2 linked regions of the Homo sapiens genome follow. The protein of the gene in region 1 binds, or shares a complex with, the protein of each later gene. Each region holds a gene or a part of one and is shown on either strand. Other genes may lie near its edges.

What was found.
Region 2: the proteins of RWDD3 (region 1) and UBE2I are in contact, whole or in part, in a crystal structure (PDB 4Y1L), measured with the Homo sapiens proteins. Residues at the interface, in NP_056300.3 of Homo sapiens: Glu3, Pro4, Glu7, Ser10, Val11, Ala13, Ala14, Ile15, Cys17, Pro98, His101, Glu102, Leu105; in NP_003336.1 of Homo sapiens: Leu6, Ser7, Ala10, Gln11, Arg13, Lys14, Arg17, Lys30, Gly34, Thr35, Met36, Leu38.

The regions. Positions count from the first base shown.
Region 1 is NC_000001.11:95,240,628-95,244,438, forward strand, and holds part of RWDD3 (RWD domain-containing protein 3), read left to right. Parts: intron 1-3,583; coding exon 3,584-3,811. Other genes in the region: TLCD4-RWDD3 (TMEM56-RWDD3 protein), read left to right, coding at 3,584-3,623. UniProt on the Homo sapiens protein: Enhancer of SUMO conjugation.
Region 2 is NC_000016.10:1,322,904-1,326,714, forward strand, and holds part of UBE2I (SUMO-conjugating enzyme UBC9), read left to right. Parts: exon of another isoform or gene 1-1,826; coding exon 1,827-1,890; 3' UTR 1,891-3,811. UniProt on the Homo sapiens protein: Accepts the ubiquitin-like proteins SUMO1, SUMO2, SUMO3, SUMO4 and SUMO1P1/SUMO5 from the UBLE1A-UBLE1B E1 complex and catalyzes their covalent attachment to other proteins with the help of an E3 ligase such as RANBP2, CBX4 and ZNF451.

The sequences.
Region 1 (3,811 bases):
AGAGTGGTAGGCTGGCCCTAGGCGTTGCATGGAGGAATTTGTAATTCATTTCATTCTGGGAGAGTGGTATTGGGATAATTTGGTGTGGGGAGAGGCAGGCGGCGAGGAGACCACTATTGCAGAAGCCAGAGAAAGGCCTGAATTAGGAGGGTGGAAGGGAGAGAAATTCTGGAGGACTTGTGGGATTTGGCAGTTGAATGCTAAGTATGAAAGAAGGAGGGAAAAAAAAAAGTTGAAGGCAGCTTTAAGATTTTATGCCTAGGCTAGGTGTGGTGGCTTACACCTGTAATCCCAGCACTTTGGGAGGCTGAGGCGGGTGGATCACCTGAGGTCAAGAGTTTGAGACCAGCCTGAACACTGCAGTGAGCCATGATCACCCTGCTGCACTCTAGCATGGGTGACAGAGTGAGACTCAATCTCAAAAAGCAAACAAAAACAAAAAACAAGCACAAGACCAGTGATAGAGTTTCCTGTGGAAGGGAGGAAGACACTTCTTTCTCAGATAAAACAGTGAAAAAGAGCAAGATGATTAAAAAAAAAAGTATAATCAAGTGGCCCAGCAGTTCCTAGGCAGCAATGACAACTGCAGTTCCTTGGTCACTAACACACTTCCATGGATTCAGCCAGTAAGGAGACAGTGAACCCAGATGGATTTGGACAGTTACTGCTTAATGCACAGCAGGCAGCATTAGCTTCATGTTCACATTGATTCTCCTTGTCCCCCAAGTTCAATGGGGTGATGTAGAGGTAGGCTGAGGTGCATACAATGCACTCAGTGGGTCTTTGTTATAGCTGAGGGGCAGTGAGCTTAGGAACCCTCCGGTATTATGAGGGAGCTGCTAGTGATCCTGCTCAATCTTTGTCCTGAAGGAATATGTTACCTTATATTGCTTAGGAAACAAATCTGCCCCCTGACCTGGAGGGATAAACTCTAGCTTCCAAGGCTGTCGGTTATGCAAAAGTCCTTGAACAAAGATATTAATGCCCTTTGCTCAGAAGGCATTCAGAAATGCCAGATTGTGGGCATCCGACCCGCAGACACTGACCTAGTGATGGATGAGAGACGTACACTGACACAGACATTTTGCTTGTCAGTGTGGCTAAAGGGGTTCTGCTCCTGAATCTGCAGTGTAGGCCATGATAAGCCGGTGAAGTTCACATTTATTTAGTACAGATTAAATGACAAGGGTCATGAGTAAACACCACTAGAAGGTAATTAACATTGCCACCCCTCCCCACCCCCCCCAGGGGAGAGCAGTCATGCACCCACAGATAATCAAAGGTTGCTCTTAGGACCACATGAGTAAACAAGCTATTTAGGTAAACTCTCCCACATTCCCTTGTTATTTGCTCTTTTGCTATCAACTCGAGGTAAAGAGGATTCGGCTGCTTTCAGCCAAATCTTTTACTGAAGCTATGCACCACCACCCCCCAGCCTTCTAAGAAGGTTTGTGACTATTTCCTATAACTATCTTTACAATTTTTCCTCTGCAGTTTTTCCCACCACCCTGACTGAACTCCCACACCAGATCCCTGGAGAATTATCTACCAACACAGACATTTATGTTTATATAAATTATATGTACATGTATATGTACGCATATTTATGAATAAAGAAATGTTTAGGTGTAGAAGAGAAGTCAAGGAAGATCACTTGGGATATATCCCTGCTCTCGTGTTCTGAAACACTGGATTGAGTCAATATGATGGGATCTGTGTCTTACCTGTCATTTTCCCTCAGAGACTAGTACAGTGCCTTGAGCTTAGTAGGTGTTCAGTGAATGCTTGTTCAATGATGAATGATTGAAGATCTTTAAAAGTTCTCCTCCTTCTTGAAGAGAGAATGTCAACTCCCTAGATGATTATTAGAAAGTTTATTCAGCCTAAATGGTTGTGTGTTGTCTGCAGTTCTATTTGTAATGTCTGTTTTACATATTGAAATGTACTATTTTAACATAGGCAGCCTACTTTAACAATAAAGTATTTTTTTTTAAAAGGGTAAGTAGTTAGGCCGGGTGCGGTGGCTCATGCCTGTAATCCCAGCACTTTGGGAGGCCAAGGCGGGTGGTTCACCCGAGGTCAGGAGTTTGAGACCAGCCTGGCTAACATGGAGAAACCCTGTCTCTACTAAAAATACAAAAATTAGCTGGGCATGGTGGCATATGACTGTAATCCCAGCTACTCGGGAGGCTGAGGCAGGAGAATTGCTTGAACCTGGCAGGCGGAGGTTGCAGTGAGCCGAGATCATGCCACTGCACTCCAGCCTGGGCGACAGAGTGAGATTGTGTCTCAAAAAAAAAAAGAATAAGTAACTAGATAGAAGAAGAAGGGTTTTGAGAAACATGATGGGTTTTGGAGGAATGTACAAAGTTAGATTTGGAAAATTCTTCTTATGAAATACACATATAAATTGTATCATTTTAATATGGTCTTCTTAACGGTTAACTGTCTATGTTTCCAGATGATGTCCTAAAATAGTCGTTCCTTGCAGCTGGTACTGAAGAGTGTATGAAAGAAAAACTCTGTAACAGATGTGTCTGGTCCTGTATGAATCAATATCTGTAGCAATGGCTTTTATATATGTGGAATCAGAAGGCTCAGGAAACAATTTTAATGTTCTGTTAGGTTCTTTAAAATGGGGATACATTCAGGTCTCAGTTGTTGAGGCTGTTGAGCAGCAATCCAGGTATGAAAATGGGAAAGATTTGACTGCTTCTCTCATGCAGGGGAATAAAGCAAAGGCACGTGCAGAGGGAAGTAGGGGTAGAGAGAGGCAAGTTAGCTTCAGAGAGATTTATTTGCACCCAGTTCTGTTCTACTCAGCCTGACGTTTTATCATCTTTTTGAAAAGTGGCATGAAGTGGTGTGGAACACATCAGAGGGTGAAGCCAAGCAAATCTGAAAGAGAGCAGAGGATTTCATATGATATCCTATGTGTGCTTTCCCCTTCCTTCTTAGGAGCTGGAAGAGGCAGAATTGATGTCCACTCAATTTCAGTTCATCTTGCCACCTTCATATTATACTGATACTAATATATGTGAAATAAGAAGAGAACATTCCAGGCAGTTACTATGTCACATGCAGTCATCAGTTTCTCTGCAACCCTACAACCACAGGGGATTCCATTGCTTGCTTTGACTTGGACTTCTCATAAAATGACTTTCGTTGGATTTAGTGTACAATTTTTAAGTTAATTACTGATTTTGTATATATGTGGTATTGTATCTTTGAAAGCTCATATGAGTTTATTAGGGATTTTCAGAATTATCAACTAAATCTGGCTAGAAAAAAAATTATCTGATGAAAAACCTTTCTGGTAACTTAATAAAAATGGGGTGATAGCAAGTGTAAATGCCAGTTAAATCCTGGGTGCTGGTGTGTGTGAATACATGAATACATGTGTATGGTTGAAGGAAATAATTTGTAAATCATAGCTTTCCTAGTATTACGTGTCCCTTCATAAAATAGCTCAGAGTTTTCTCATGAAAAATAAATTGACATTTGAGACAAAAGTTTGAACTTGCTGGTGTTCCATTCAAATTGAATAATGTACAGCTAATGATTATTTTTGGATGCCTTCCAGAGACAGATGGGACCGTGTTCAGAATTCACACAAAAGCTGAAGGATTTATGGATGTGGATATACCTCTGGAATTGGTGTTCCATTTGCCAGTCAATTATCCTTCATGTCTACCTGGTATCTCGATTAACTCTGAACAGTTGACCAGGGCCCAGTGTGTGACTGTGAAAGAGAATTTACTTGAGCAAGCAGAGAGCCTTTTGTCGGAGCCTATGGTTCATGAGCTGGTTC
Region 2 (3,811 bases), on another chromosome or scaffold:
GTGGGAGGACTGCTTGAGCCCAGGTGGTTGATGCTGCAGTGAGCCAAGATTGCAGCCTGGGTGACAAAGTGAGACCCTGTCTCAAAAAAAAAAAAAAAAGCATGCCGGGCGCGGTGGCTCACGCCTGTAATCCCAGCACTTTGGGAGGCCAAGGTGGGCAGATCACGAGGTCAGGAGATTGAGACCATCCTGGCTAACACGGTGAAACCCCATCTCTAGTAAAAATAAAAAAAATTAGCCGGGCGTGGTGGCGCACACCTGTAACCCCAGCTACTCGGGAGGCTGAGGCAGGAGAATGGCTTGAACCTGGGAGGCGGAGCTTACAGTGAGCCGAGATCACGCCACTGCACTCCAGCCTGGGCAACAGAGCCAGACTCTGTCTCAAAAAAACAAAACAAAAGGCAAATGTTTTCCTGCCTAGCCCTTAGATGGTCTGCCATCCCCAGCATGGTGTGGGCGTGAGCTCTGTCTGGCCTGCACCCCATTTGCCGACCATCTCCAGAGCTGGGCTGTGGCTCCCATCTGCGGCGTGGGCTGGGCAGGGTTGCAGTCCCCCGCCCCGTGTGACTCTCCCCAGCGTCTCCTGGGCTTGGTGCCTGCTGGGCTGCACTGTACACTTGCGTGCACGTAAACAAACGTTCTTTCTCCTACACACATCCGCTTGAAAAGCACCCTTTGTGAAGCATGTGTGCGGGTTTCAGATCGTTTTTCCTGGGTTTCCTGGAGGCCTTGGACCGTGTTCCTGCCCTGGCAGGTGCCTTTTCTCGGGGCCTCTGCTTGGTCAAGGAAGAGCTGGGACGTGTAGCCACCGCCTCTGGTTCCTTCCACGCCCACCCAGCTGAGCTGCTCTGCCCTGGGGCCGGCTGGTGGCCCAAGGAGGGCGCTGGGGTCTGGGCTGCGGTCCAGGCCCTTGGCGTGGGTGGGGGTGGCACCGGCGCTGCTGCCGTCCTGGGCTGTTCCACCATGCAGAGTGAGGCTCAGTGTCTCAGACCAGGTCCAATCCTGGCGAGACTGGCAGGACTGCGACCCCAGGAGCCACCTCCATAAATGTCATGGTGTTCCCCCATCCTCAGGGTCACACTGCACCCTGTGACCCATCAGCCCCTAGGTGCAGCCTCGGCCGCCCTCCCGCCCACCTGTTTTGCCCGGGCAGTGTGTGCCATGCCACTCTCCTGGGCAGCTGCTTGCAGGCTGAGCCTCACTCTACCCAGCTCCAGACCTGTTCGCTGATGCCCCTGCACTGCCCAGCTCGGGCACAACGCCTTCTCAACCAGGCCTGCCTTCCCACACCTTTGCCCCTGCGGCTGAGAGCCTCATGGAAAAACCCTCCAGAAATTGGTGTCTATTTTTGGGAATTAACAAAAACAGTGGCAAGCAGTCAGTGTTTTCAGTTTATTAGGACTGTCCCCAGACCTACAGAAAAGAGAAGCTGCTGATTACTAGTTAGGACCAGACTTGGCATCGGCAACGATGTTGCAGGCCCTGGCGTGGGCCCTCTGGGCCTGAGCCCTCCTCGCAGCCCTGCGGGACCCCTCTGTCCCCCTTGAACACCACGTTCACCCAGCGTGGGTTCCTCTCCTCCCTGCCCTTCTGCCCCCGTCAGACCACGGGACAGTCTCAGCCACGTCAGAGCCAGCATGGGCTCCCCACCACGCAGGCCTCCCTGCTTCTCCGGGCTTCTGCTTCTGTTACTATGACGAGCTCCACACTGCCCTCCCCCAGGAGGTCCCATCCTGCAGCCTGGTCTGCCCAGCTGGCTCCGGGGCGAGCGTGAGGGCCAGGCAGCTCAGCCCTCTAACACGTCTCTTCTCTTTTGACCTCCTCAGCCAAAACAGAGTGGAGTACGAGAAAAGGGTCCGAGCACAAGCCAAGAAGTTTGCGCCCTCATAAGCAGCGACCTTGTGGCATCGTCAAAAGGAAGGGATTGGTTTGGCAAGAACTTGTTTACAACATTTTTGCAAATCTAAAGTTGCTCCATACAATGACTAGTCACCTGGGGGGGTTGGGCGGGCGCCATCTTCCATTGCCGCCGCGGGTGTGCGGTCTCGATTCGCTGAATTGCCCGTTTCCATACAGGGTCTCTTCCTTCGGTCTTTTGTATTTTTGATTGTTATGTAAAACTCGCTTTTATTTTAATATTGATGTCAGTATTTCAACTGCTGTAAAATTATAAACTTTTATACTTGGGTAAGTCCCCCAGGGGCGAGTTCCTCGCTCTGGGATGCAGGCATGCTTCTCACCGTGCAGAGCTGCACTTGGCCTCAGCTGGCTGTATGGAAATGCACCCTCCCTCCTGCCGCTCCTCTCTAGAACCTTCTAGAACCTGGGCTGTGCTGCTTTTGAGCCTCAGACCCCAGGTCAGCATCTCGGTTCTGCGCCACTTCCTTTGTGTTTATATGGCGTTTTGTCTGTGTTGCTGTTTAGAGTAAATAAACTGTTTATATAAAGGTTTTGGTTGCATTATTATCATTGAAAGTGAGAGGAGGCGGCCTCCCAGTGCCCGGCCCTCCCCACCCACCTGCAGCCCCACCGCGGGCCAGGACCAGGCTCTCCATCTGCTTCGGATGCACGCAGGCTGTGAGGCTCTGTCTTGCCCTGGATCTTTGTAAACAGGGCTGTGTACAAAGTGCTGCTGAGGTTTCTGTGCTCCCCGCATCTGCGGGCTGTAGAGCGCTGGGCAGCTAAGATCTGCATAGGTCGGGATTGGCATCGAGACCCTGGCAACTGCACCGGTGCCAGCTGTCTTGGGGGCCACAAGGCCAGGTCCAGACCAGGGCTGGGGGCTGCCTGAGGACTCCTATCCGGGCAGCCTGCTGGCGGGGGTTCCCCTCTTCAGTGGCCAGGTCACAGGGATGGAGCTGCGCTGTGCATAGGGTGCCACCTCAGGTGTCTGTCCCTTGTGTCCTCAGGAGGCAGCCTTGCTACCACCCGTGGCAAACGCCAGGTGCTTTTTCTGGGAGAGCCCACAGCCGTGGCCCTCCAGGGCTTCCCCGACCCTTAGCGCCAGGTAGAGGGCCCTGGGCAGCCTGTGTCTGGAATTCTTCGTCCTGAGGCCACCTGAGTGTGGTCTGTCCTGGGGAGGCTGTGCGCCTCAGCAGCCGTCCTGACGCTGAGCCCTCTGCAAAGGTTGGGCCGGCCAGGCCTCTTGGGGCTGCCTGAGCCACTGCAGGAAGTGGCCTGGCTGGGAAGTTGGGTGCCGGTCACCTCCCAGCAGGAAGGCACAGTGGACAGAGATGGGAAGCCCTGGGGGACACAGCCCGGTGCTCCCAGCCCTCCAACCTCTGGCTCCCAACCCAGTCTCCCCATCCTAGCGAGCTTGGCCCTCCTCAGTTTCGTTTCAAGCCTTGGGGCTGGAGCTGGCCCTGCTGCCCTGGCACCCCCCGGTGGCTGGAGCTGGGTCCCCGTGGCCCAAGTGCAGGGTCCCAAGAGGGCAGGGCGGGGCTCCCCAAAGGAGCAAAGAATGCAGGGAGGGCGGTCCAGGGCCCTGGGAAGGGGAGCTCGGCACCCTCCAGGTCCGTGTGGGACTCCAGCCGCTGTTGGCTGGGAATCGAAGTTAGAGGTGACTTCCAAAGGCCCCCCGAGCCGGCAGTGCCCCCCACCACCCCTCCAGCGACTCTGCGGTGCCAGTGCCTTGTTGGCTTTTCCGGCTACGCACCCTGCAGTCACTGAGCTCTCGGTCTGACGTCTGATGTTTGTGGTTTGTTTATAACACGGGGCCTTACCTGGGGAATTCAGCTGGTTTGAATATTTGTAGCCCGCTCCCAGAATGTCTTATTTTGTAATGACTGAACTACATTTAGTAATAGTTACA